Homo sapiens: one gene and its partners. The protein of the gene in region 3 binds, or shares a complex with, the protein of the main gene of each other region. Each region holds a gene or a part of one and is shown on either strand. Other genes may lie near its edges. The genes, in order: GSK3B, SIAH1 and AXIN1.

Region 1 (9,795 bases), on a different chromosome or scaffold from region 3:
AGCCTCCCTCTACAACTAAAGGATAAGCTTTTGAGAGCAAGGACTACAATTTCTTATGTCTGTTTTCAACAGGGGTTCCTTAGAATGCTAGCATCCTAACAAATGCTTAAAGACTCCCCTTTCTTTTAAATGCTTTTAAAGTCAAAGCTGTCAAAAACACATAATTAACACTAAACTCCAACTTTTAAAATTCTAAATTGACCTATATGGTAATCGGAATTAAACATTTTCATCTATATATTTTACAAGAGTTACTCCATCCTTAGTTAGTATCTGTATTACCAAGAATTCAAGAGTCATTTTCAAAGAAAATCCTGAAAAGAAAATGAAAAGTCCCAAAATGTAGCATTATAATCTAGCATTACAGATCTCTGAAATAAAGCTAATAAATCAATTAGCTGAAATAGACTGACTGATTTTCAAACTATATTACCAAGATGTAAAACATACAAACACTCCAGTACCACAAGAGGCTCTTAAGTAGCTATTATAAGATTTGTATCATCATAGCTGAAAATTACCCCGGAATTTTAAAATATTTTTCAAATCACTCCATGAAGTGCTTAGAAAGCACGACCCTTCCCTGAAAGATGCATAATCAGCTTTCCTCTTTACCTACCCGGGCATTCTCTACTTGCAAGCCACAAGAAAAAAAAAAAATTAACTTTCAAAAATTATCTCCCATTCAGCTATTACCTAGACTACCCTGTTTCAGGCTAGTTCCCAAAGCCAACATGAATTGAAATCTTGAGTTCAACTAAAAGTGATCATTTTATGTTGCCTAAGAATATAATCAATTTCACATAACATCATGTTTTGCGTGTGTGTGGGTTCTTAAAATCTCAGTTCTTTAGTTCTCTCAGTTCTTCTAGGCAACAAATTAATTTGTCTTTGCCCTCATGATGCCCCTCTTTCCCACAATAAGGAAACAATATAGATATTTTTGTTAAATTCTGCAAGTATGTTTAAACAAGCTATCATTAAATACCACATGAACTTCTCCATAAATAGAGATACACTGGAACATTAGATACTTAGTATATATTAAACACTTCAAGAGCATACTTTTCAGCACAAACCCAGGACAAGAGTAGTCTATCCACAACCCTGAACACAGCCCAAATATCCCTATTATTTCTAGGACCATAGCCATCTGCAAAAGCCAAAATGGAAAGGACTAAATCCACATTCTTCTAACTAAATCCACAGTTATCTAAATATGATGGAAACTAACGCTAGAGTGTTTTAAATCGTCCTTTTTAAGGAACCCGCCAGAACATTTAACAGGTAATGAATGCAGTAGCACTCCAAAATTGAACTTAAATGTAATGAGCCAGTGACAACATTTAACTTAGTATTTGGCACTATGACAAAACAAATCTCAATCAAAACTTGGACCTATTAATACTTCCAAGTTAACTTTTGATTAAACATAAATTATACGGTGGCAGGTTGGTAATGTCAAAACAGGAAGGTTAAGAGATAACACATCAAACCACTTATCCAATTGAACACAAATGCATACAGAGATGTTACTGCTGCTAGGTATTTATTGGCTCCCACTAGTCCCTTCTAAAGAGAGAAATCAATGGCAGCCTCCAAATGTGAATGGTTACTGAGGAAGTTCATCCACAGATTAAGAACAAATATTATGTGTAGTCATACAAACAAGAAAAAAATGTTGGGAGGGTGGGACATTTAACGTCTCTATTAAGTATATCAAACTATGATAACCCCTGAGACCTAAAATATTCTCTCATTCCAAATTCCAAAAATTCTGCAAATGTGCATAATGGTTTAGTAATCAAATCTTGTCCTTCTCTTTATTCTAAAGGATGGGCAAGTAAACACTGTCATCACTACTTTAACGTGGAAACACTCGAGCACTTGATGAAACTGACTACCAACAGCAAGAAAAGTACAAGAAAGCAGTTTGAAATCGAATCATCCAAATAAATATCATATTATCTCAATTCAAGGTTAATGAGACCGGGGGAGGGGGTATGGGAGGAGTAAAAAGGGAGCTGCTTCATCCTTGACTGAAGATAGGTTTTGCCCTTTTCCATTGCCTGTTTATCAGGAGGTCTAATAATTTCAGATCCTGGTATTTCGAGGTTTCTTATTTTAAGGGCGAGGTGGAAAAGGGGTGTAAAATAAAACCAATACTCACTGCTAACTTTCATGCTGCCAAAAGCTGAAGGCTGCTGCACCGGCTTGCAGCTCTCCGCAAAGGAGGTGGTTCTGGGCCGCCCTGACATGATCACTCTCTTCGCGAATCACCTTTTCCTTCCTTCCTCCTTTTCTTCCTTTTGTCTTTATGTTGGGGTGTTAGGTTAACGATAAATGCAGCATTAAGTTCTCCCACAGAAGAAAAAGAAAAAGACTTCGTCCTCTTGGCTTTTCACTCCTTTTGTATACTATAAAAAACAAAACAAGCGATATATTTCTCCTTCAAGACAGATCGGCACGGATATTTAACATATAGATGATTTAGGACTTGGGAAAAAATACAATTCTTTCCCCTCCCTTTCCTGGGAGGAGAGAAAAGAGAGGGCAAATCCTAAAAAAATATGTATCACGTGAAACGGGGGCAAATACTTGATTGAAAATGAGTACTTCGAATATTATATTTTCCTCGGGGATTTTTTTTCCGAGTCAATGAAGAAGGGAAGCGGCGGAAGGATCACGAGTCTCACGCTTGAAGAGAAAGGGGGATGGGTAGGAGGGAGGGAGAGGGAGGGAGGGGGTGGCTCGGAGATGCGACGGGAAACGCTGCAGCTCCGGCAAGCCGCGGGATCCGGCGGGCTGACGGCAGGGGCCCGGCGAACTAGAGGGCGGCGGAGTCGCGAGTCAGTCAGAGGCGGGCGGTGGCGGTGGCGGCGGCTCCTCTCCTCATTGCGCCAGGAGCAGCTGCAGGCGGCGGCTGGATCCAGCGGCCATGGCGGTGGCGGAGGCAGCTCCCTTCAGACCCCAGGCAGCGGCTCCTCGACTGTTCCCCATTCGCCGGGGACATGGGAACCCGGCAACCGCTTCCGTCCCTCGGGGCCCCCTCCCCCGTCCGCGGCAACAGCTCGGCCGCCCTCCCGCCCCTCGGCTCTGCTCGGTGCCCGCTCAGGAAGTGTCCGCGCTTTGCCCCAGCCCAGAGCCCTGTCAGCGGCTGCGGGGCCGGCTCCTCCTCGCTTCCTTCCTTCCTTTGTCACTTGGCCCGGGCGGCGGCGGCGGCGGCGGCGGCACAAGCCCGCATTCGCCCGGGTCAGGAGCTGCTCTGTGTGAGGAGCGCTGTCTGCGCAGCCGCCTTGCACTTCCCCACTCCTCCTCCCCCCTCCTACTCGTCCTCCACCTCCTTCCTCCCCCACCCAGCCTTACACCGCCCAGCGCCCCGCCGCCCGCGTAACAGGCGTCTGGGAATCGCCGGCCGAGCCCCACGCTCGCCCGCTTCGGCTGGGAGCCGAAGCCCGAACGGAGCCAATCACGGACGTCGTTTGTTTGCGGCTCCTCCCGGAAAAAGCCGATCAGCCTGAGAAACCAATTAGAAAGTGACGCTGGGAAGCCACGCCCAAAGAGCGGAAAATGCCGAAGGTAGCCGAACGGAAAGGGTGAATTCGCCTTGTTCGGTGGCTGGCTGGAGGAGACATTCGACAATGGCAACAGTGGCCAATCAGAGTCGCCGGCCCTTACGAAGAGGCTTGAAGAGTTGAGGACGGTGAAACCCAGAGACGCTGGTGAAACTGCACGGCTGGGCGCCGCCGCCGCTTTGTGATTGGCTGGAAAACTCCGCTGGGAGCGTACCTCCTTCGGTGATTGGTGAAGAGAAGGGGGCTTCCGAGGACAGTCTGGCCAGTCAGGACTTCCCCTCCCTCTCCAAGGTGGGGAGAAGAAAGCGAAGGGAGGGCGTCTATAAAGCGCTGTCTCATTGGCCTGAAGCTTAGGCGCTGGAGTTGGGGCAAAAGGGAGAGGGAGGGAGCCCGAAACTCGCGGCGGCGGCCAATCGGCTCTCACTGCCGTCCAATCGCAAGACCTAGCTGCAGTGTGATTGGCCTTCGGCCCCGGTCCCAGGAGCGGGGAGATGCCTGACTCGGGTCGTGGCTGACGACCCGACGGTTCGCCTGCGGCCGCCTCCAACAACGGTGGAAACCGCACACAGGGACCGCGGGCCCTCGGTGCAGCAAATCGGAAAGTGCTGCGGTCGGCGGCCCTGGGCTCTGAGCGCTCAAGCGAGCAGAGGGGTGGAGGGGCTCTCCCCACCCACAGGAGGCTCTCGGCGGGGCGCAGCCAATTCTGCGCGCCCAAGGCTCCCCTCTGCCGTGGATCGCGTGTGCCGAGTGTTGGCCTCTTCCCCGAAAGGGCCAGACGGACCAAGGGGGCCTTCCCAGCCGGCTGCAAGCTCTCAGACGCTAAAATGGGAACAAAGCTTCCAGAAAGGCAGCGCCTTTGGGCGGCCGCGCCCCGCCCAGCCGCGGGGGCCATTGATACAGAGGCTTGCTGCGCTTGGTGTGCGCGGCCCGGCCGGGCCTCTGGAAACGCCCATGAGAAATGAGCTCATGCTGGATGCGCGCGCTCCTTGGGCGCAACTGCCCAGCGCAAAACGGGCCCCGAAAGCAGGTGAGGGGAAATGCCGTCAGGCCGGATATCCTGAAGCCTCCGAGGAAATGGGGGGGTCAGAGGAGCCCGTGGTAGCTTTGGATCTTTTGGAACTAGGGTGATCTATAAAAGTGCAGCTTGAGAAGATTTCATACATAAGACCAGCGTCCATTGTTCTACCATAGAACCAGTTCCTTTGGTCTGCTTTAGAACAGTGAGGTATGGCTACGTCAAGATAACAGAGAAAGTAGAACAGACAGTTGCCATCCTGATTGTAATCCAGTGGTGCCTGTAATTTCTACCTGCAGAGTCATCTCTTTCTGTTAAGATGCTGTCTCCAGAAAGCACATGTTAAAGGACCTATATTTGATCAGATTACCTGGCTCTTGCTTTGAAACACTGATGAAGGACTTGGGACAGAACAAAGTAAGCTTTGATGGAAGACAGGAAAGGTCTAGATAGTGTTTGCAGATTCAAATGGCTACAGAGGCCAGACAAGTAAAGCAAATGAGTGAGACTGGCCTTGTGTAAGACAATGGGGAATGATAGGGAAAATGGCAAATTGGAATATCCATGCCATAACTAAAAGGAACAGCTGCTCAACTCTAGCAGATTGTTGCCCTCAGGAATGTGGGTCCAGTGTTCTCAGATGTTCAATTTTTTTCCTCCCAAAAGAAACCCCAAAATTGGATTTTTGTGTGAAATCTCTGCATTTTTAAATGTTGGTAACCAAATTTTCAAACCCTGCAGGCCAACCTAAAAACATCCCTTGGCCAATGAGGCATTGGAAAAAGTGTTAATAATTGTTAGGGGCCCGATAGCAGTAGGAGGGTGAAAACAAAATGGTTTGGGACCTTAAATAATTGAAATGTATCTTTATTTATTTATTTATTTTTGAGACGGAGTTTCACTCTTGTTGCCCAGGCTGGAGTGCAGTGGCGCGATCTCGGCTCACCGCAACCTCCGCCTCCCCGATTCAAGTGATTCTCCTGCCTCAGCCTCCCAAGTAGTTGGGATCACAGGCATGTGCCACCATGCCAGCTACTTTTGTATTTTTAGTAGAGACGGGGTTTCTTCATGTTGGTCAGGCTGGTCTCGAACTCCCGACCTCAGGTGATCTGCCTGCCTCAGCCTCACAGAGTGTCAGGATTACAGGCGTAAGCCACCACACCGGGCCGGTTGAAATTTATCTTTAAAATAGTGCACCTTTAATCCTTTTTTTATTTCTGTGTGTATCTTATAATGTGCATATCATGTTAGCTCAAGATCAAGAGTTTATGGACAAGCCAGGAGTGGTGGCTTATGACTGTAATCCCAGCAATTTGGGAGGCCGAGGCAGGTGGATCGCCTGAGGTTAGGAGTTCAAGACTAGCCTGGTCATCATGGTGAAACCCCGTCTCTACTAAAACTTTAAAACTTAGCTGGGCGTGGTGGCGGGCGTCTATAATACCAGTTACTTGGGAGGCTGAGGCAGGATAATTGCTTGAACCCAGGAGGTGGAGGTTGCAGTGAGCTGAGATCGCACCATTGCACTCCAGCCAAGGCAACAAGAGCAAAACTCCGTCTCAAAAAAAAAAAAAAAAAAAAAGTTTATGAACCACTAGTTTAGACAAAGAATAGTTGTACAGTTGTACAGATGGATAAGGAAGGAAAGAACATTCCAGGCAAAGAGAAAAGGTTATGCAATGGCTGAAATGTTTAACAAGGTATTTGGAGACCTTGAGATAGTTTGAAATTATGTAATGTCTAAGATGTGGGCCAAGAGAAAATAAAGGAAAATATCACAGGATAATAGAGGAGTAAAGTAAACTATGCTGTATTAACTCCATATTAGGCAGCCAGTAAAAATAAATACAACCACCAAAAGTAACTCAGAAATATGTTTAGGAAACAATACTAATTGAAAAATATAGAACTTCAGGTTGTATATCTACCATATTTCCAATCTGTAAAATATAAGTACATTTGGATCAAGATTGGAAAGGAAGACAAATTAGAATAACTCGTCAATAACATATTTAAATATAAATGAAAATATTTAAATGTCTTTGCTTAGTATTTTTATAATAAATTTCTATTTTTTTACTTTTATTTATCTTTTAATCTCACTGTTATCCAGGATGGAGTGCAGTAGCACAGTCATAGCTCACTATGGCCTTGAACTTCTGGGCTCAAGCAGTCCTCCCACCTCAGCCTCCTAAGTAGCTGGGATTACAGGTGTAAGCCACTGTACCCCACCTCTGTGTTTGATTTTAAGGGGAATTGGCCCAAAAAATAACATTTATATTATTTCTTCACTATGATTCACATGTCCCTCAGAAGCCTCTAATTACAATGGAATTCTTAAAAAAAATTCACATTTCTCAGCAAAGCTTTCCAACGAAAATTTTTATGATAATCCTTTGTCATATAAGTTAAAATAGTAAAACTAGACAATAGTGAGTAAGTATTATATTTGAGACACCTGCTAGGCATCTGATATAAGGTGGATGAGAGGATCAGTGTCCTTTGGGAGTTTACCCTCTAGGGAAGCAACTACATGAAAAGTTAAATAAATTATAAAAATCACATTTTGAATTGATAAAAGTTATGAGACAGAACATAATTTGGTTTTTATTTATTTTTTTGAGACAGGGTCTCACTTTGTCCTCCAGGCTGGAGTGCTGCGGCCTCAACCTCCCAGGTTCAAGGGATCCTGCTGCCTCAGCCCCCCAAGTAGCTAGGACTACAAGGGTGCACCACCACACCCAGCTAATTTTTGTATTTTTTGTATAAATGGGGTTTCGCCATGTTGCCCAGACTGGTCTCAAACTCCTGGGCTCAAAATCTGCGTGCCATGGCTTCTCAAAACGCTAGGATTACTGGCGTGAGTCACCATGCCTGGCCTATAATTTGTTAATATGGTTGTTACTACAAAGTTTAAAATAAATTGCCCATGCATTCCTATTTATAATAGGTGAGTGGAGGACACTTCAATCTAAAGTGATCTTAAAGGAGGAGTAGTAGGATTTGAAGATGAAGAAAGAAGAGGGGAGGTAAATTACTTTCCATCACTTCAATTTCAACCCATCAGATAAAACCTCTCTTTAGTAAACCTGCATGTGGGTGGAGCTGTAACAGCAATTAAGGACAGTGTGACTCTGTTCTTCTGACTTTGGGAAAACCAGTTTGGCTGGAACAAAAAGCTGATAGAGAAGACTAATGGAAGATAAGGTTGAAAAGGTAGGTTTGAGGGAGCTTTGTTACAGGAAAAAAAAAAAAAAAAAACTGGGCTTTGTCCTGTAGACAGTGGAGAGGTACTTTAGCAGATGTAAGACATTACCATTATAGGAAAGCCTCTGAAGTAACATACACTGTGGTTTTTCCTGTTGCTGAAAATATGCCCAGAGTAACAAGATGTGGCATAGTTGGTTATGTGTCTTATAACCAGTGAGGTGTGCCCAAATGGGAAATTAATGAATGACTACCCAAAAAGAAGAGGGAGAGTGTTTGAAACACTGTCACTGTGAAATAGACTGGTTGTATGAAAAGTTGCATATCAAGCCTTTGGCAAATTATATAAATACTCTGATTTTGACATCTTAAAGGAGTATACTATAGAAAATAAAAGAAAAACACTTGAATCTGTTACAGGAAACGGGTCATGATCCAGACCCCAGGAGAGGGTTCTTGGATCTCACACAAGAAAGAATTCAGGGTGACCCCACAGTGCAAAAGTCAAAGCAAGTATTAAGAAAATGAAGGAATAACAGAATGGCTACTACATAGAGCAGCCCTGAGGGCTGCTGGTTGCCCTTTTTTTTTTTTCCTTTGAGATGGAGTTTTCGTTCTTGTTGCCCAGGCTGGAGTGCAATGGCGTGATCTCGGCTCACCACAACCTCCACCTCCCAGGTTCAAGCAATTCTGCCTCAGCCTCCCGAGTAGCTGAGATTACAGGCATGCGCCACCACGCCCGGCTAATTTTGTGTTTTTAGTAGAGTGAGGGTTTCTCCATGTTGGTCAGGTTGGTCTTGAACTTCCGACCTCAGTTGATCTGCCCGCCTTGGCCTCCCAAAGTACTGGGATTACAGGCATAAGCCACCGCACCTGGCCTGGTTGCCCATTCTTTATGGTCGTTTCTTGATGATATGCTAACCAAGGAGTGGATTAATCATGCCTCCCCTTTTTGGACCACATAGGGTCTAAACTGTCATGGCACATTTGTAAACTGTCATGGCACTGGTGGGAGTGTAGCAGTGAGGACGACCAGAGGTCACTCTCGTCGCCATTTTGGTTTTGGTGGGTTTTGGCCAGCTCCTTTACTGCAACCTGTTTTATCAGCAAGGTCTTTAAGACCTGTATTTTGTGCTGACCTCCTATCTCATCCTGTGACTTAGAATGCCTTAACTGACCATCTGGGAATGCAGCCCAATAGATTTCACCCTCATTTTGCCCGGCTCCTGTTTAAGATGGAGTTGCTCTGGTTCACATGCCTCTAACAAATCCTTTTAGTTTTTCATGCTTGTCACATGTTTACTTCTAAGGGTATAATCATGTGGTTTACTATATTATTACCGATTAGATTATTTTGAACTACTTCAATTTTATTTATTTTACCTCATTTCCATTCACATTTTTTGAAAAGAGCTTTTTTATACAAGAGTGTAAATATTTTCACATTGAATAAATGAATTGAAAACAGTATGTGTTGATTGAATACTTGAAGTATACTTCTTTACAGCAAATTCTAGGAATTCAGCTTTGTTTTATGTGCATTAAAATGTAATAAATATAGGCCTGAGAAATTCTCAGAACAAATATTTTAGGCCCTCAGTAGCTGTAAATCGGGAACGGTCAGATTTCCTTCACATGGAAATGGGACTCACATCTCTCAGAATGGAACAGAAGTCTTTTGGTCTTTAATCTATGTCATGTTGATGGGAAATGTGAAAGCTACAAGAAAATTGGTATTTGGTTTCTTGGATATTGAATATCCTTGGCCAGGGGTGCAGGGAAGTGAAAAAAAAGTAAGACCTCCTATGGATCATCCAAAAAGGAATTTCAGAATGCAGAGAGGACTGGTCTCCCTTAATCAGGCCAAAACTTTATTTGAATTGTATCAGGATGCTTCATTCCTGTGCCCTGTAGGATGGAATCTTGAAAGAAAATGGGAAGGAATGTACAAAGCCTCAAGGAATGTGTTTCTCTGTAACATCTAGATCAGACAGTAGTATG
Region 2 (9,877 bases), about 48 Mb from region 3:
CCTGCCTCTACTAAAAATCCAAAAATTAGCTGGGCGTCATGGCAGGCGCCTGTAATCCCAGCTACTCAGGAGACTGAGGCACGAGAATCACTTGAACCCAGGAGGTGGAAGTTGCAGTGAGCTGAGATTGTGCCACTGTACTCCACCCCAGGGCACAGAGTGAGACTGTCTCAAAAAAACAGCAGCAAAACAACTAAACTCTTACTATCTGATCCAGCAATCACATTCCTTGGCATTTACCCAAAGGAGTTACAAACTCATGGCCACACAAAAACCTGCAAATGGACGTTTACAGCAGCTTTATTCAGAATTGCCAAGACTTCGAAGCCAACCAAGACATCCTTCAGTAGGTGAATGGATAAACCAACTGTGGTACATCTAGACAACAGATTATTATGCAGCCCTAAAGAAATGAATTACCAAGCCATAAAGACGTGGAGGAAACCTAAATGCATATTACTAAGTGAAAGAAGCCAATGTGAAAAGGCTACATATTTTAAAAGCCCAGTTACACATATGACATTCTGGAAAAGGCAAAACTATGGTGACAATAAAAGAAAGAAGATAAGTGGTTGGGGGTGTGGGGACAAATAGGTGGAAGTCAGAGGATTTCTAGGGTGGTGAAAGCATTCATGTATGTCATTATGTATTTGTCTAAACCCATAAAATGTACGCCACTATAATCTTTGGGTAATAATGGTGTGTCAATGTAGGTTCCTCAATTGTAACAAACGTACCACTTTGGCGGGGAATGTTGATAATGGAGGAGGTTACACGTGTAGGGGCAGGGGCTACACGCGAAATCTCTTGTCTCTTCTACTCAAGTTGCTATGAACCTAATGCTGCTCTAAAAAATAAAGTCAATTAAAAAAATCTGCATAAGGGGATATATGGGTCTACATCTCAGCAGGCAAAAAGATTGGAGGCCAGGCACAGCAGCTCACACCTGTAATCTCAGCACTTTGGGAGTCCGAGGTGGGCGGATTACTTGAGCCCAGGAGTTTGTGACCAGCCTAGGCAAGATGGCGAGACCTGACCTGGTCTCTACAAAATAACTTTTTAAAAAATTAGCCCAGTGTGATGGCACATGCTCCTAGTCCCAGCCACTTATGAGGCTAAGGTGGGGGGAACCTTTGAGCCCAGTTGGAGGCCACAATAAGCTATGACATCACCACTGCACTCCAGCCTGGGCAACATAGCAAGACTATCTCAAAAAAAAATAAAAATAAAAATAAAGATCTGAATGTCATTAGAATACGCACAGTAGTAGGTGAGTAAACAAATACCTACTGAGCACTAGGTACTGAGGATATATATTAAAAACACAATTCTTGCCCTTATGCAGCAGATATTCTAGTAACTATAGCCATGGGAACTAAATCATTTAAAGTGCATTAGACATCCTGCTATTTTGAAGAATACTATTAAGGATACTTATTGTAAAAAGGAAAATTTCCTTTTTTGGCGGGGGGATGGAAGGTTCTGGGGATTTCATACAGATTTTGTTGAAAGAGAGGGCTGTACAAAAAATATCTAGATTTTAACATTTCACAAAGCGAATATGGAAATTCCACAAAATTCTGTTAATAAATCTCTTTAAACAAAGAACCTCCAATCTTTAAAAATTTTGTAAATCAACTGCTTAAAAATACAATTTAAGCAGTCACCTAAAACTCTGTAAATTACTAAACTTTGTTACCCTAGTTATGTAAGATCTGTTTTCAAAACACCATACTCACTGAAAATCCTATTTGTTATTTTATGTCATTACTGACATAGCTAGATAATTCCTTCATAACTCCAATTTAACCTAATCATGCTTTTTAATTACAGATATTAAGAAAGAATATTTCTCTACAGCAATTTCGTAAGAACTTCCCGAAGCTTAGAGGGAATAGATTAATATTTAACAGATGTAAAATGCATTAACATTGTTTCTGAATTTGTACTTTGTGGAATACTTATCCTGAAAAGTTATCAGTTTCACATCTATTATACGTATTTCAGTTTAAAATATTAAATGTTAGTAAATTATGTTGGAAAGATGCCAATAACGAAAAAAAAACTGTTTGGCATAAACTTTGGGGAACAAATTCTGGATATAATCGCAACTAACCATCCAAGATTACAGAAATCTGTATCTTTATTTAAATTTTCAGAATGAAACACTACACAACCAATTTGTGTAATCTACTTTGAGTCTCAAGATCTACCAGTCTAAAGTCCTCCTAACAACTAATTAAAATCCTCTCCACCATAATTTGAGCCAACAACTCCCAGATAAAATTACCAGACCATTACATTTGCCACCACACTACATTCTGCTCTTCAGTAACTTCTAAAAGTGATGGTAACACCATAGATACACACTCAAGTATTCACTGTCCCACTTTTCTAAGTTGGTTAACTCAAGTCCTTGAAAGTGAACTGATCAATAAATCTAAACTAGCTAAGAGAAGACCTCATTTTAATCAATTTGATTTTTTTTAATCACAAAGATATAGCCATTCAAATCCCCGGCCACAGCAATTTCCAAAATGCCACCATCTCAGAAAGTCTGTTAATTTATCATACAAATCTCCTTGTCCTTTTTAACAACAAAATGCATTGAAAGAAAAAACCCAGCACTAAAGATCTGTGACCTGATTTCACAAATTCTGGTCTATGCACTTTCATCATACCAACACATCATGCCAAGAAAACCTCGTAAGTTTAGCTATTAAACTACAGTCTTAACAGTAAGCATTTGTTGAGAACTTAGTATGGGGCTGCCACTGCTTTCAGTCCACCTATTGTCATCTCATCAATTCTCAACAGGGCTTGAGGTAGATACTGTCGTTACACCCATTTTGCAGATAAGGAAAGCGAAGCACAGAGAAGTATCTGCCCAAGGTCACAAACCAGTGGAGCAGGATTTGACCCAAAGCAGACAGTCGGACTTCACAGCCCGTGCTCTCAACATCCAACTGCTGAAGAGTTAACAATTTACCCTTGACAGCCGCTATAAGCAAAGGTAAATGCTCAACTGCTAGGAAGGGACAGTCAGAACACCGTCCCATATCCAGTATCCATGTCTCTCTGTTTGTTTATGGCCTCTATGACTTTGGCAAAAGAAGTACACACAATCTGATTTTCCGAACACCCAAGCTGGACTTTTCTGAATGTCCGAGCAAACAAATTATGTATCTTTCCAGGAACGGGCAGACAGCGAAAACGAACCTACGCATCGGAGTGGCCCAGGTTATTCACTTTAAGTTATAAATTTGGGAGAGTTAAGAAAGGACCCCAAACTACCCGGCAAATGAACCCTAGGAAATGCCAGGTTTATAATAAGCTAGAGCTTCCCCGGCACGCCGTTCACGCGCTCTCCTCTCTAACGACATAAACAAGGGAGGAGGCTGCATTCTTCCCACTGCACAATGAAGCCTCCGGCCGAAGCGGCAGGAAGAGCGCAGCCCCGTCCCGGACGGCTCCAGCCGGGGGTCGGGGGCAGAGAGCGGAGGCCGAGGCCCGCCGAGCGGCGCGGTGCGGCCCGGGCCTCCGGGCGCCGCGGGGAGGAGGGGGAGGGAGGGCAGGGCCCCGGCAGCTGCCCGCACTCAGCTGACCTCCGCCATGTTGGCCGCACACCCCGGGACCCTCCACAACAAAGGCCGGCACGAGGGCGCGGGGCGCGCCGGGCGCCACCCCCGGCCGGGCCCGCCTCCCGGGCGCGCGGGGGCCGGGCCGCCGCCGAGGCCCTTCCCCCGCCCTCGGCCCGGCCGCGCGGGGCCGACCCCCGCCGCCACCCCGCCGGGCCCGGGGCTCCAGGGGCGGGGGCGAGCCGGCTTGCGAAGGCTGAAGGCAGGGGAGGGGCGGGGGGCGGCGCTCGACCGGGCGGCCCGACTCCGGCCGAGACAAAGGCGCCGCCGCGCCGACTACTGCCCGCGCCCCGGCCGGGCCGCCCTTCCCGCCCTCCGCCATTACCGGGCCTGGGCGCCCGCCTGTCGGAGAGCCCCTCGCCGCCGGCTCCTCCCTCAGGCCGGGCCCCACTTACCTGTGGGCGGAGAGCGCGCCTCGGACCCCGGTCCTGGCACCAACGCGCTCCGTCGCCAACCCCCGCCACCGCGGGCAGCGCCACCGCCTCTTCCCGGCGCCGAGACCGACGGGACACCCTGGGCCGCCGCCGCCTCTCGAGAGCGCGCCCCGCAACGGCCGCCCCGGCTCCCCCCTGGCCGCCGCCGCCGCCGCCGTTTCGCGCGTCCTCGAGCCCGCCGCGCGCCCCCGCTAAATACCACACACTGCGGCGGCGGCCATGAGGAGGCGCGGCCCCGCGCGCTGGGAGCCTGGGGGGGCGGGGCTTTCGCGGGCGCGCAGGCGCACAGGCGTTGGCGCGGCCGGCGGCGGCCTCCGCGGGCGTAGCTGTGCGGGTCTCCAAAGGCGGCAGTAGGTGCGGGGGCTACTCGGCTACCGTTGCTGCGCCCGTGCACCGCGCATTCAACGGATCCTGGCACGTGGCGCTCTGGCCCGCGAGAAGCTAGCGCTTGCCCGTCGGCTCAGGGCAGCTCCTCCCGCGGCGCTTTGTTCCGGGGCCGCGTGACCCCCCCGGCTCCGGCCGGAGGGGTCGCCCAGCGGGATGCGAGCCCCAGGCTGGCCGCCGCCGCGGCCTTGTGCCCTCCCCCTTGTTTTGTCTGCTGATTTAGCCCAGCGCCTCCACGGATCCTTCCCAACTCCACTCAGTCCCAAAGAAAAAGCGGCTGCCCTGCCCGCCGACCGGGACCCCACCCCTAAAGAGAGTCCCAGCCTCTCCCGAGGTTGAGCCGCTCCTCAGCAACAGCGGGACGAGCTTCAAAAGCTTGTTTCAGCTGAAAAGTGGGTAATGGGGAAGCACGCGTTTTCCTGTGTCCATGCTCATCTGGAAAGTCCCTAATTAGGGACTCTGCATTCCACTTCTTGAAATAATAAAAGGAAAACATCACTTGCAATTCTTTGATGGGTGCTATGAGCAGAAGCAAGCATCTGAGACATTTACAAGCCCTAACTGGAATTCCATGTAAGATCTATTAAAATGGTATTCCGTCCGGACGCGGTGGCTCACGCCTGTAATCCCAGCACTTAGGGAGGCCGAGGCCGATGGATTACCTGAGGTCAGGAGTTCGAGAGTAGCCTGGCCAACATGGTGAAACCCTATCTCTACTAAAAATACAAAAATTAGCCGGGCGTGGTGGTGCACGCCTGTAGTCCCAGCTACTCGGAGGCTGAGGCAGGAGAATCGCTTGAACCCGGGAGGCAGAGGTTGCAGTGAGGCAGAGATCAGGCCATTGCACTCCAGCCTGGACAACAGAGCGAGACTCTGTCTCAAAAAAATAAAAATAAAAATAGAAAAATCCCATACCGGGCACGTATGTACAAATTCCCAGTGTATGATAAAGTTTATATGTGCAAAACACTAGTTTACAGTATTCCTAATTACATGATTTAAACTGCAATTTTACTTTCACATTTTTGGGGAGAAGTTATAGCTCCTCAGTACACGGGAAGGTCAATAGAGTTCGGTTCACTTCAGTTTAGAGGTAAATTTTCCATTTTTACAGACTATGTGCTTGGCATAGCCATGTGGCCTTGACCTGGTCGTGAAGGGCAGAGGAGTTCTGTCCTGGGCGAGGAGCAGCTCTGGGGTGAGATGTGTTTCTCGCCCCCAGAACCCCTGGGCCGCTCTGCAAGCAGTGAAATGGATACGGACTAAGAGAGAACTTGCCAACGTGGCGATTAAAGTTCTAAACACCCGGCTTTGCCAAAGTCAGATTTTGTCCTCCTTATCCCGCATCCCTTCCTCTACCCAACAGCATTTGTCCATCTGAAAATAACAGTCTGTCTCTGGCCCACTGCTGACAGTCGAGGACTTACCTTATAAACTAGTGGATTCTCTTAAACTGCAGGGGTGCCCAGGACACAGTGTCCCCTGAGGATGCCGCACACCAGTCTTGAAGTGCTGGATCGTTGACGTCAGGCACCCAGAAGCAACTTCTGCCTCTGGAATTCTCAAACGTGCTTTTCTTGGCTTAGTTTGTGCCTGCTCTCCTCTAGAAGAGTCCAAGTTACTTCTTACTTTCCCCACTTCCCTTTTATACAAAACAAATTTAATCGGGTTAATTCCATCTCTGAGAATTCCTACCTAGATTTGGGCGGGGCTCAATCTGATTTGGTTAATTCTGGGTGGTAGCTATGGGTGGGACATAAACATCACCATTATAAATTTAATTTACTCCCCCTCTCAAAAAAATGTACCTTCCATTTGAAAGAAAATAGCTCCACTGTGGGGGTAACTAAGCACCTTTTCTGAACAGGGAGTTGACTCTGCTTCCTTGACAGTTTATCCATAGAAAAGCATTTTGTAAACTGTAAAGCCTATCCAAATAATCCTCCAATTGATGGGATTTCAGTAACGGTGACAAATATTTTCAGGCCACATCTGGATAGGGAGCCTTCCTGGTCCCCTCAAATCACATCAAATGGTAATTCCATCTATTGCAATGGAACATAACGCTCTGGTCCTGCATCTGGCCCGTAGTTAAGGTACCAGTGATGTAAATTACTTTCCTCTTATGAATAAAACAGGCACTGGCCAGGCACGGTGGCTCACACCTGTAATCCCAGCACTTTGGGAGGCCAAGGCAAGAGGATCGCTTGAGGCCCAGAAGTTCCAGACCAACCTAAGAACATAGCAAGACCCCGTCCCTATAAAAAGTTTAAAAATTAGCCCGGCAGGGTGGTGTGCGCCTGTAATCTCATCTAATCAGGAGGCCAAAATGAGAGGATTGCTTGAACCTGGGAATTTGAGGCCATAGTGAGCTATGATTGTGCCCCTGCACTCCCATCTGGGTGACAGAGGGACACTCCATCTCTAAAAACATAAAAATAAATGAATAAATAAAACAGGCACTGATGAGAGTATCTTTATTTGGGGGTTTTGCTATGAATTTATATTAAATTGATATTTATTTATTTATTTATTTTGTAATCTCGGCTCACTGCAACCTCCATCTCCTGGGTTCAAGCGATTCTTGTGCCTCAGCCTCTCAGATAATGCTGTCAAAGTTGGCTAAACTAGTTAAGACTGAACAGATGATTTCCAAGTGTCTTCATGTCAATATAGTTATTTTACAATAGACCAGTTCACAAGACCAAACCCATCTATTGAATCACCGATGGGCTGTGTTTGTTTCCAGGCAATCACAGATGTCTCTTGCCCAGGAAACTATAGCTATCTCCTCTTACATTAAACCACTGATACCCATTTGTCATTCAGCTTAGGTGGATAGGTCTGGAAACATATTAGCATTCCCTTCCAAGCCTGGCTCTGCTGGTAGCGAAACAGAATCTTTTTCAGCCTGGAAACTGGAAGGCGGTTCCTCCCTCCCAAATAGACTCCTATAAGCTTTGCAAAGGAAAGCAGGTCCCCAACTTGTCAGACATGCCTACAGCAGAGCAGAAACAATGTTTTCTTTATCAGACACACCTGTTGCCAGTCACTGTCTGAGGTTGGTGAATGTGTTAAACAGTATCCCAAACAAATTTTCCTGGACATGGTGGAGAAGTTAGAGACACAACATGAGCATCCAAGAATGAAACAGGAAGTAGCTGAAGGAAGTTCCCAAAAGCCCAAGTGGTTGGGAAATGAGTTCGCCCATAACTGTAGTTTTCCTTCAATATAATCAAGTTTCTTTAGGAAAAAGGTTACATGCTAGGCATCACATTTTTCAAGAAGTTAGAGCCGGGCACGGTGGCTCACGCCTGTAATCCCAGCACTTTAGGAGGCCAATGCCTGCAGATCACCTGAGGTCAGGATTTGGAGACCAGCCTGGCCAACATGGTGAAACTTCGTCTCTACTAAAACTACAAAAATTAGCCAGGTGTGGTGGTGGATGCCTGTAATCTCAGCTACTCGGGAGGCTGAGGCAGGACAATCACTTGAACCCAGGAGGTGGAGGTTGCAGTGAGCAGAGATCACACCACTGCACTCCAGCCTGGGCAACAGAGCAAGATCCTTGTATCAAAAAAAAAAATTAGAAAATCATTGAGGTTTTTATGTAGCTGGTGGAAGTAGGTGATACTGACAATTAGTTTAAGTAATTGTTGTTCTTGAGTTCATTGGAATGCAGTGATAACTGTCCAGTGCATTAGGTACAACCCCTGCCTCATGCCCAACCCACAGATGCTCATTTCCATGGATCCAAATCTTTTCTTTACACTTGTCAGAATTTAGCCTTTTTCTTTTTTCTTTTTTTTTTTTTTTTCCAAGACGGAGTCTTACTCTGTCACCCAGGTTGGAGTGCACTGGTGAGATCTTGGTCACTGCAACCTCTGCCTCCCAGGCTCAAGCAATCCTCCCACCTCAGCCTCCTGAGTAGCTGGAAACACAGGTGCGTGCCACTGTGCCCAGCTAATTTTTTTGTATTTTTGGTGGAGACAGGGTTTCACCATGTTGCCCAGGCTGGTCTCAAACTCCTGAGCTCAAGCCATCTGCCCATCTCGGCCTCCCCAAGTGCTGGGATTATAGGCGTGAACTACCATGCGCGGCCTTAGCCTTTTTAAAAAATTTAAGTATTTGTTGAACTGCTATGACATGGCAATAAGTAGAATAAATCCCTGGAGGGCAGGGTGCATGTCTGTATTTCCATCTATGCCTAGCACAGTGGCTGACACATAAAGGGCCCTCAACATTTTTGTTGAGCAAATGAAGAAATATTAAACAAGGACCATGCCCTTAACTATCACGGTCTATGGAATCTGTTTCCAGTTTCTCTTTTACATCCTTTCATTCATTGTTAGTAGATATTTGACTTTCTTTCCAAATTATCTTGGAGAAACTAGCATTTAGAAACATTTAGCATTCAAGAAATGCTTAACACACGCACAAGTTCATGGGTTACTTAATTTTTTTTTTTTTTGAGACGGAGTCTCGCTCTGTCACCTAGGCTGGAGTGCAGTGGCGTGATCTCGGCTCACTGCAAGCTCCGCCTCCCGGGTTCACGCCATTCTCCTGCCTCAGTCTCCCGAGGAGCTGGGACTACAGGCGCCCGCCACCACGCCTGGCTAATTTTTTGTATTTTTAGTAGAGATGGGGTTTCACTGTGTTAGCCAGGATGGTCTCGATCTCTTGACCTCGTGATCTGCCCGCCTCTGCCTCCCAAAGTGCTGGGATTACAGGTGTGAACCACCGTGCCAGGCGGGTTACTTAATTTAATACTAACAAATATATGAAGTGAGCACTGCTTTCCCATTTTACAGATGAGGAAATGGAAACTCAGAAAGGATAAAGAACTTTCCCATGGCATGTACTAATAAGTGGAGGTGTGGAAGTTAACATCCAGGTCCGTCTGGCCCCAGAGCCTTTGCTCCTTCCTCATTCATCGTGTCTTACAGCTGAGGAGAAACATGATCTGTGATTCATATTCATCCAGGAGGGCTTACACATGAATCTGCAGGGCCCTCAAGTCCTTTATGAGAATTTGTCAATTCAGGGTTTTCATTTTAATGAATTTTAGAAGGATGAATTAAAGTATATTTTACATTATCTAAACAACTACCTGCAATTCACTATGTTAATGAAAAAATGGCCAGGTGCGGTGGCTCATGCCTGTAATCCCAGCACTTTGGGAGGCTGAGGCAGGTGGATCACCTGAGGTGAGGAGTTCGAGACCAGCCTGGCCAACATGGCGAAACCCCATCTCTACTAAAAATACAAAAATTAGCCAGGTGTGGTGGTGGCAGGCATCTGTAATCCCAGCTACTTGGGAGGCTGAGGCAGGAGAATCGCTTGAATCCAGGGGGCGGAGGTTGCAGTGAGCCGAGATCGTGCCACTTTACTCCAGCCTGGGCGAAAGAGCGAAACTCCATC
Region 3 (9,636 bases):
CCCCCAGCCACCACTCCACACTGCTGTCCCTTGTCTATGTGGAATCTGTCCCCCACACCAACTTCCTCACATTGCACACACTTTACCAGCCAACAGCTGCTCACGGCTGGAAGCACGAAGGATCCACAGAGCCAGGCGTGGTGTCACGCACCTGTAGTCCCAGCTACTCAGGAGGCTGAGGCTGGAGGATCCCTTGAGCCCAAGAGTTCAAGACTAACCTGGGCAACATAGTGAGACCCAATCTCTACCAAAAAACAGTTCTTAATTAGCCGGGTATGGTAGCGTATGCCTGTAGTCTCAGCTACTTGGAAGACTGAGGCAAGAGGATCACTTGACCCAGGAGTTCAAGGCTGCAGTGAGCTATAATCGCACCCCACTGCACTCCAGCCTGGGCAACAGAGCAAGATCCTGTCTCTAAAAAAAAAATAGGCCGGGCACAGTGGCTCACACCTGTAATCCCAGCACTTTGGGAAGCCAAGGCGGGCGGATCACGAGGTCAAGAGATCGAGACCATCCTGGCTAACACGGTGAAACCCCATCTCTACTAAAAATACAAAAAATTAGCCAGGCATGGTGGTGGGCACCTGCAGTCCCAGCTACTCGGGAGACTGACGTGGGAGAATGGCATGAACCCGGGAGGCAGAGCTTGCAGTGAGCCGACACCGCGCCGGCCACTGCACTCCAGCTTGGGCGACAGAGTGAGACTCTGTCTCAAAAAAATAAAATAAAATAAAATAAAATAAAATTAGTAAATAAATAAGAAGCACCCATAGATGGAGGATGGTTTGCAACTATGTGCCCCCAATGACATTTCAGCAGCTAAGGACTTTTTGTGAACGCTGCTGGGTAGTATGTCATCTTGGCCTCAGCAGGAACACACAGCTTCTAAAGGTCAAGGCCCAGTGAGCTGTGACATCCTGCTGCTCACAGACCACTTCAGCGGCAGTCACTCCGTGAGCCACATCAGCATGGAGGGAGCACCCTGGGCGTGGGCACCTCCACACTAGCTCACGGTCATCTGTCTGGGACGCCATCACAGGAAAGAAGGCCTGCACCCTGACCACCTGAGCCTTACCACTATAGATGTACTACCATTCACTAGCTTGAAGAACCAAGTCACCGGAGAGTGGAAAGTGATTAATCAGACAGTGCTCAGAAGGGAGGCTAACCACAAGTCACCATCATGCTCTCATAAGGGACTTAAGTCTTCTGTGTTAATTATTGGTAGTAGCGGGACCCACAGCACCCAGCACAAGGTCCTGCAACTAACGGGCACCAGTAAGTCATTCACTGATGTAAAAAAGAAAAGACATTTGTCACAGACGCCAAACACTGGCTCTCTACAGGGGCTGAACTACTGTACCACAGAAAACAGCAGCAAATTCTTCCAAAACTAATGGGTTTTGTTGTTTTGTTTTTTGTTATTTTGAGACAGGGTCTCGCTCTGTCGCCTAGGCTGGACTGCAGTGGGGCGATCTCAGCTCACTGCAGCCTCAGCTTCCCAGGCTCAAGCAATTCTCCAGCCTCAGCCTCTCAAGTGGCGGGGACTACAGGCACGAGTCATCAACGCCCGGCTAATTACTGTATTTTGGGTTTCACCACGTTGGCCAGGCTGGTCTCAAACTCCTGAGCTCAAAGCAATCCACCCGCCTCGGCCTCCCAAAGTGTTGGGATTACAGGCCACTTTGCCTGGCCCCAAAACTAATGTTTTAATTCATGTGTGAACCAAATTTTCAGAGCCCAGAAGAAAATTTTCTTACAATCATGTGTATTTTTGGCTGTCAACTGACAGAAGACTTTTTGGTGTCCCTGGAAGCACATGAACCCCTCTACAAGCTACTGATGTTGTTGAAACATGTCCCAATTCCTGAAATCTCTGGGTTCCCACAGGGAAGCACACCAAGCATTTAGTGTACACACAAGTACACACCACACATAAAGCAGTCACGTTTACTCAGTTCAGTATCAAATGCCTGCAAGCACTGAATCTGGCCCACAGCCTGTAGCTACCATCAATAAAGTGAGTCCATAAAACGGGCGGGATGCCTACAAGTATGATACTGTATTTAAAATTCCCTTTCGTCACCGCTTAGGCATATGCTCCAGGCATCATGGCAGCAAACTCAATGCTACCTACGTGTGTAGGTATTTATTTTACCCAAACGTAACTTTTGACATTTTGATTTACATGGAGGAGGCAAGTAACACAACACGACTCTGACATCTTCCCAGCTGTCCATTGATTTAACTCTTGAAGGTTCAGGGCTACTATTTCACATGTAATTTATTCCCCCATCACTGAAATTCTCAATGACCAATGTAATCCGAAAAAGTCTGCTTAGCTTTTCTGAAACTAGAAACCCAAGACAAGTCAACACCAGCTGAAAATCAAACAAAAACAGTCTGTTTTTCATGCTTTCCCATCCTTGTCCCTGAATGGAGATCTTAAAACTGAAACCAAAGCCAGGTGAGGTGGCTCACGCCTGTAATCCCAGCACTTTGGGAGGCCGAGGTGGGCGGATCACCTGAGGTCGGGAGTTCAAGACCATCCTGACCCACATACAGAAACCCCATCTCTACTAAAAATACAAAATTAGTCAGGCTTGGTGGCGCATGCCTATAATCCCAGCTACTTGGGAAGGCTGAGGCAGGAGAATCGCTTGAACCTGGGAGGCGGAGGATGCGGTGAGCGGAGATCACGCCATTGGACTCCAGCCTGGGCAACAAGAGCAAAACTCTGTCTCAAAAAAAAAAAAAAACTGAAACCGAGCTATTGCTGAGTATCTCGGGTAGCCGGTTTAGACTGTGTTTTCTCCAAAATAGGGCCTGTGGATCCAAGTAAGCTCGAGATTCTTCCTGAAGAAGCAGAGAACAGAAGTGTGAGCAAAAACAAGGGGCTGACATGCACATAAGAACCCTTTATAAATTATCTTAGAAGGGGCCAGGCGCGGTGGCTCACGCCTGTAATCCCAACACTTTGGTAGGCCAAAGTGGGCAGATCACCTGAGGTCAGGAGTTCCAGGCCAGCCTGGTCAACATGGTGAAACCCTGTCTCTACTAAAAATACAAAAATTAGCCGGATGTGGTGGCGCATGCCTGTTATCCCAGCTACTCAGGCGGCTGAGGCAGGAAAACTGCTTGAACCCGGGAGGCGGAGGTTGCAGTGAGCCAAGATAGCGCCACTGCACTCCAGCCTGGGCTACAGTGCGAGACTCCGTCTCAAAAAAAAAAAATTATCTTAGAGGACGGTGGTCACCCCTGTAGTCCCAACACCTTGGAAGGCTGAGGCAGGTGGATCGCTTGAGGCCAAGAATTCAACACCTGCTGGGCAATATAGTGACACCCCATCTCTACAAAAAATATATATATATATATCTTATAGATGGGCTGAGAAAAATCCCCAGAGAACTGACATGTTTTTCTCTACTTTCTTCAATGCCAAGCTGAAAGTTTCACTGCTCGGGCAGTGCAGCTCTGGTTTCACGGGGGCTAAATTCCAAAGTGCGGGGCGGGGGTAGAATCTAAGAACCACACCCAAGAGAAAGACCAGTGTTTGGGCAGCAAGGCATCAACCTGGAGGGTACGGACGCCGGAGCACGCGGCTACTCAGGCCGAACCCCGACCCGGACCCGGCACGCGGCCTCGGCGAGGGCGGGCGGGAGTGTCCTCCTCCGGGACAGCCGGACTCCCGCCGACTTCTGGGCGGCGGGGAGGGCTCCAGGCCCGGCTCTCCCGGGCCCCCGCACGCGATGCGCGGCCCCTGCAGCTGCTCCGTGCCCCGAGACGCGCCCGAGGCCTCGGACCTCCAAGCGGCCACCGCGCCGCCAGTCCCGCTGCCCAGGGACACCCCGGCCCCAGCTCCCCGCGCGCCCACCCCCTCGGTCCCACGCGCGTCAGCCACCCGCGCCCCCCGCCGCTTCCGGGTCCCGCCCGCCCGGCCTACCGCGGCCTAGCCCGCCCCGGAGCCCGGCCCTACTCACCCGCGCGCGGTGGTGGCGGGACCCCGGGCCCGGCTCCCGGAGCGGCGCGGCGCGGTCCGGGCCCATGCGCTCAGCGGCAGCGCGGCGGGCGGGACCCGGCGGGGGCGCGGCCCGGGGCGGCCCCCATCTCGGCGGCTGCGGCTCGGCGGCCCGGAGGCGGACGCGGGGCAGGCCGCGGGGGCGCCGCAGGGGCCCAGCCGCCAGCTCCCACCCGCCCGCTCCGCGTGGACGCGGCTCCGGGCCGACTCCGGCCGGCTCTGGCGGCGGCAGCGGCCACGATCGCCTCCCGAGCCAGAGCCCGAGCCAGAGCGCCGAAGCCCAGGCCCGAGCGCCCCCGCCGGCGGCGTCCGGAAGTGCGGGGGCGGGGCCGGGGCGCGGGGACGAGGTGAGAGCGCGGGGCGGGGCCTCAACACGGGGCGGGGCCGGCAGCGCGGGGACGAGGTAAAGGGTGTGGGGCGGGGCTTCAGGCGCGGGGCGGGGCTGAAAGCGCGAGGATAAAGTGAGGAGCGTGGGGCGGGGCCGACAGCGAGGGGACAGGTGAGGAGCGCGGGGCGGGGCCGGGGCGTGGGCGGGGCCGGAAGCGAGAAGACGAGGTGAAGAGCTCGGGGCGGGGCCTCGGGCGTGGGGCGGGGACCAGGGAGTAAGGCGGGGCCCGCCTCGAGCAGAAGAGGTAAAGAGCGTGGGGCGGGGCCTCCGGCGCGGGGCGGGGCCGGAAGCGAGAAGACGAGTTGAGAAACATGGGCCGGGGTCTCTGCATGGCCGGGAGAGGGCGTGGTCAGTGCCTGCCGGGGGCGGGGCGTGCCGGGGGCGCGGTCGCGCCGTCTTCCCGAGGGGCGGTGCGGAAGCGGAGCCCGGGAGGCTTTGGCTTCCCAGAGAGCGGAGTGGGAGAGGCGGCGTTGCAGGTCCTTGGAATGGCCGCGGCCGTGGGGAGCACTGGGCGGACTGCGCGCCCCGAAGGGCGCACGTGGGGCGCAGCCCTTTTCTGCCGCCAGTACATCGGAGGGCAGTCAGGGGGCTGCAGGCCTCGGGGCTCCCTGCCCAGCCGGCCCTGGAGAGGAGGCCCTCGTGGGGACCGCCACGGCCTGCCCGCCGCCGTGAGGGAAGCAGGCTCCCAGGAGTGGGGTGGTCGGCAGGCAGGGATGGCCAGGGCCCTTGGAAGGTGGGGTGGGCTCCACCCTCCTGAGTCCCAAGGCAGCCTGGACTCACAGCGCCAGGGAACACGTTAGGCCCCAATATATGGTGGCTCTCACCCGGACAGGAGCCACAACCTCCAAAGAGCCCACCGGCTAGGACCCTCTGCCTTGATTTCTCCCAGGCACCATCTAGTATCAGAGAAGGGTTCTCCTTCCCTCCGCTGCCCAGGCCAGCCCGAGAGCAAGGCCATTGGAGTGTCCAGACCCCTGCACCCCTTCCCCTGGGCTGTCTCCACAGCGGCCCTGCCAAGGGGTCCAGTCCGATCCTGCCACCCTGGCTGCCCAGATCCGTGTCACTTGCCCTGCAGGCCACAGAGCATGAGGTCACAGCCCCAGGCACCCCACGGCAGAGAGGCACGGGCCCCCAGCAGCAGCCCCAGCACCAGCTCTGGCCAGCCCAACCCTGTCAGAACCAACCCTCTGCTCTCCACCCAGGCCTCAGCCAACCATCAGGCCCTCCCCAAGGAGGAGGATGTGAGTACCAGGATCTGCCGCCTCCCACAACAGCCCAGGGCCCTGTCCTTCCCAGAGCACTATTGGGCCTGGCACCTCCCGGGATGCTCCAGGCAGCCCCCTGGGGTCAGCTATACCCCCGTTTCACAGAGGAGACAGCTGCAGTTCAGGCCACACAGGACCAGCTCGCCTCCTGTTGGGTGAGGGCTCCCCACCTCGTCCGCCCCACACCTGAGACAACAGCCCTCATCTATCTGCCCTCTGCTTTAGGCCTCCCAGGGCTCCCTGCTGCCCACAGCCCTTCAGGGCCCTTCCTAAGGGCGCCTCCCCCACACCTTCCCCTAGATGCGTCTGGCCACTTGCCCGCCTCCGTGCTTCCGTGTCCATCATGTCCATACCTGCCAGCTCCCTCCAGGCACCTCTCACGTCACCCCCATGTCTTTCCCTGGGCTGTGTCACCCTGGATGCCCAGCCTCACCCTTCAGAGCTCCCAGGCAAGCACAGAAGTCCCAGCTCCAGGCTCCCCGAGCTTCCAGCCTACCCCCAACCAGATGCCCACAGGTGGGACTGCATGGGGAACCATGTGTGGAAGCCTCCCAGCCCTCGCCCCTGCCAGCACTCAGCATGGTGTCTGATGCCAGCATCGCTGTGTGGGAAAGGGGGTAGCATGGGACAAGGGCCACTAGGCTGTCCCCAGCCTGCCAAGGGCCCAGGCCCACCTCCCAGGGCCATCACTGTGCTCAGAGCAGGTGGGCAGGGGCTGGGGATATGAACGAAGCTGCACTGTTAGACCAACACCTGGCCCCGCTGGGTCCTGGCCGCAGGCACCCTGCCAGGTCCCACAGTGCTGGACACTGGGGCCTCCCCGCAAGCCCCCTAGCCCATTCAGCCTCAGAACCTTAGAGGAGACAGAGTGGGTGGCCTCCATGGTAAAGCACAGTTTCCAGGGATGAGGGAGTCCTGGGTGGCCAGACAGACAGCAGGACCTCAGACACTGGCCCCTGGGCTGCCCCCCGACTCCCAACAAGGTCCCCAATGCTTGCCTTGGTTCTGCAGAGCTGCTGCTGTGTCCGGGCCAGGCTCTCGGGGCTGTGTCCACGTCCATCCTCCTCTTGGCCCTCGGTGGCAGGTGTCCCCAGGCCCTGGGACCAGAACAAGGCCCTTGGGCCTCCAGCTCCTCGGGGCCCCTGCCCTGCAGGGACAGGAAGGGGGTCAGAAAGCCTGGAGGAAATGCAGCAGCCCTTCTAAAGTAGGTTGTGGTGTGGGTGTGGAGGGGAGATTCTCTGAGCCTAGTGGGGGTAGGAGGAGACCAGAGGCAGGCCAGGCAGAAGAGAGGTAGAGGAAGGCCCTGAGGAGGGGCAGGGAGGCGCGCGGGGGCCTGTGGTGTGCAGGGTGAGGTTCAGCCACCTCCCTTCCTCACAGAGCTCCTTGAAGAGGCAAACGCCCTTTGCTTCGAGCGTGAGTTTGCCACGAAGGCTTTTATTTGATTGACCGTAGATGACATTTAATCAGGTTTTGTTTCTAGGCACCAAATGAGACACTTAAGAGCAGACATGGAATTATTTTCTTCAATGTAGACATAAAAGGTATGTTTTTTTGTTTGTTGGTTTTTGGAGACGGAGTTTCATTCTGTTGCCCAGGCTGGAGCCCAGTGGCGTGATTTTGGCTCACTGCAGCCTCCACCTACCATGCTCAAGTGATCTTCCCACCTCAGCCTCCCGAGTAACTGGGATTACAGGCGTGTGCCACCACACCCCACTAATTGTTTGTATTTTTGCTAGAGACAGGGTTTCATCATGTTGCCCAGGCCGGTCTCTAACTCCTGAGCTCAAGGGATCCACCTGCGTTGGCCTCCCGAAGTGCTGGGATTACGGGCCCAAGCCACCATGCCCAGCCTAAAAGGAATACCTTGAAAATAAAGTGGCTGGCCCGGAGCGGTGGCTCACGCCTGTAATCCCAGCACTTTGGGAGGCCGATGCAGGTGGATCACGAAGTAAGGAGTTCGAGACCAGCCTGACCAACATGGTGAAACCCCATCTCTACTAAAAATAGAAAAATTAGCCAGGCGTGGTGGCGCACACCTGTAGTCCCAGCTACTCAGGAGGCTGAGGCAGGATAATTGCTTGAACCTGGGAGGCAGAGGTTGCAGTGAGCTGAGATCGCCCCATTGCACTCCAGCCTGGGTGACAGAGCGAGACTCTGTCTCAAAAAAATAAAAATAAAGAAAAGGCCAGGCACGGTGGCTCACACCCGTAGTCCTAGCAGTTCGGGAGGCCAAGGCCAGAGGATCACTTAAGCTTAGGAGTTCAAGACCAGTCTGGGCAACATAGTGAGACCTTGTCTCTACTAAACAATTTTTAAAAACTAGCTGGGCGTGGTGTTGCGCACCTATGGTCTCAGCTACTCGGGAGCGCGAGGCAGGTGGATCACTTGAACCCAGCGGTTGGAGGCTTTAGTGAGCTGTGATTGAGCCACTACACGTCAGCCTGGGCAACAGAGTAAGACCGTGTCTCCAAGAAATAAAAATTAAGAAAATAATAAAGTGAGTTTTGATGCCTTAAGTGTGTTTATCCATTTAACTGAGGAAGACCACTTATAAAAAATGACCCAAAGGAAACCCTGGAAGACACCCCAAGGACATTAGCTGGGGAGTGTTTGCCGCTGTACGATGTGTGATGGAGACAGCCAGCTGCAGAGATGGACACTGTGCAGCCACCGACCCTGCATCAGTGTAAGGGGAGCGGGGGAAGAGGACGGACGGTTCTGATCCAGGGTTCTGGAGGCTGAGGGAAGCCTTGGGTTCAGCCTCTTCCAGTCTGCCCCTTCTCTGCCCCCTCCGCTCAGTCCATAGGTGTGAGAGGTGGGAGTGGGCAGGCAGGGGAGGCCGCTGGAGGGGAGGGAGGCCCCTCGAGGGGGAGGGAGGCCTTGGACCATCCCGTTCAGGCGAGGGAGGACTGCACTTTCCATCGCAGGCAGAGCCCCCACCACCCTCCACCGCCTTCCAGGCTGTAAGGCGAGCCCCAGCTCTCATCCCTGAGCCTTCTTTTTCCATCAGTTCTGAGCCCACAGGAGAGGCCAGATGCTGCCTGTGCCCCCATCCCAAGCCCGACAGAGAACAAGGAGCTACAACACCCCAGAGACATGCCGCCAGGCCACGCACACAGGGCACCACTTTTCCTGAAAATAGAAAATGTGGGCGGGGCGCAGTGGCTCACACCTGTAATCCCAGCACTTTGGGAGGCTGAGGCGGGAGGATCACTTGAAGTCAGCGGTTTAAGATTAGCCTGGGCAACAATGCAAGACCCTTTCCCTATAGAAGCATTGTTTTTAATTAGCCAGGCATGGTGGCGTGCACCTGTGGTCCCAGGTACACGGAGACAAGAGGATGGCTTGAGCCCGAGTGGTCAAGGCTGCAGTGAGCTGAGATGGTGCCACTCCACTCCAGTCTGGGTGAGAGAAAGACCTGACACTGGGCCAGGCGTGGTGGCTCACGCCTGTAATCCCAGCACTTTGGGAGGTCAAGGCAGGCAGATCGCCTGAGGCTGGGAGTTCGAGACCAGCCTGACCAACATGGAGAAACCCCATCTCTACTAAAAATACAAAATTAGCCAGGCGTGGTGGCGCATGCCCGTAATCCCAGCTACTTGGGACACTGAGGCAGGAGAATCGCTTGAACCCGGGAGGCGGACGTTGCAGTGAGCTGAGATCGCGCCACAGCACTCCAGCCTGGGCGACAGAGCGAGACTCTATCTCAAAAAAAAAAAAAGGGCAAGAAGACTCAAAACAGTCCACGTGTTATTAGTGGAAGCAGAAGCATGAAGTTCCATTTTCTTCTTTGCATGTTCAGGAATGTCTACAGGGATGTAACAGTTATGGTCCCGTGGAACGGTCTGTGTAAGTTAACCCACTGAAGGAGACGGGCATCACGGCTGAGGCCCTGAGGGGTGGAACTGACCACTGGGCAGTGTGTGTCCAGCAGGGTGATGGTCACGGCTGATGGCAGCCACATC

The links.
Region 1: the proteins of AXIN1 (region 3) and GSK3B are in contact, whole or in part, in a crystal structure (PDB 4B7T), measured with the Homo sapiens proteins. Residues at the interface, in NP_003493.1 of Homo sapiens: Glu384, Pro385, Gln386, Phe388, Ala389, Glu391, Leu392, Ile393, Arg395, Leu396, Glu397, Val399, Gln400; in NP_001139628.1 of Homo sapiens: Ile228, Phe229, Val263, Asp264, Leu266, Val267, Ile270, Lys271, Asn287, Tyr288, Phe291, Lys292, Phe293, Pro294, Gln295, Ile296.
Region 2: the proteins of AXIN1 (region 3) and SIAH1 are in contact, whole or in part, in a crystal structure (PDB 5WZZ), measured with the Homo sapiens proteins. Residues at the interface, in NP_003493.1 of Homo sapiens: Pro378, Lys379, Glu380, Val381, Arg382, Val383, Glu384, Pro385, Gln386, Lys387; in NP_003022.3 of Homo sapiens: Cys130, Pro131, Ser154, Thr156, Leu158, Asp162, Ile163, Val164, Phe165, Leu166, Ala167, Thr168, Asp169, Val176, Asp177, Trp178, Val179, Met180, Asn272.

What each region holds. Positions count from the first base shown.
Region 1 is NC_000003.12:120,091,177-120,100,971, forward strand, and holds the start of GSK3B (glycogen synthase kinase-3 beta), read right to left. Parts: upstream 3,272-9,795; 5' UTR 2,259-3,271; coding exon 2,171-2,258; intron 1-2,170. UniProt on the Homo sapiens protein: Constitutively active protein kinase that acts as a negative regulator in the hormonal control of glucose homeostasis, Wnt signaling and regulation of transcription factors and microtubules, by phosphorylating and inactivating glycogen synthase (GYS1 or GYS2), EIF2B, CTNNB1/beta-catenin, APC, AXIN1, DPYSL2/CRMP2, JUN, NFATC1/NFATC, MAPT/TAU and MACF1.
Region 2 is NC_000016.10:48,381,171-48,391,047, forward strand, and holds the start of SIAH1 (E3 ubiquitin-protein ligase SIAH1), read right to left. Parts: upstream 4,244-9,877; 5' UTR 4,034-4,243; intron 3,700-4,033; exon of another isoform or gene 3,606-3,699; intron 1-3,605. UniProt on the Homo sapiens protein: E3 ubiquitin-protein ligase that mediates ubiquitination and subsequent proteasomal degradation of target proteins.
Region 3 is NC_000016.10:348,389-358,024, forward strand, and holds the start of AXIN1 (axin-1), read right to left. Parts: upstream 4,336-9,636; 5' UTR 4,047-4,335; coding exon of another isoform or gene 3,981-4,046; intron 1-3,980. UniProt on the Homo sapiens protein: Component of the beta-catenin destruction complex required for regulating CTNNB1 levels through phosphorylation and ubiquitination, and modulating Wnt-signaling.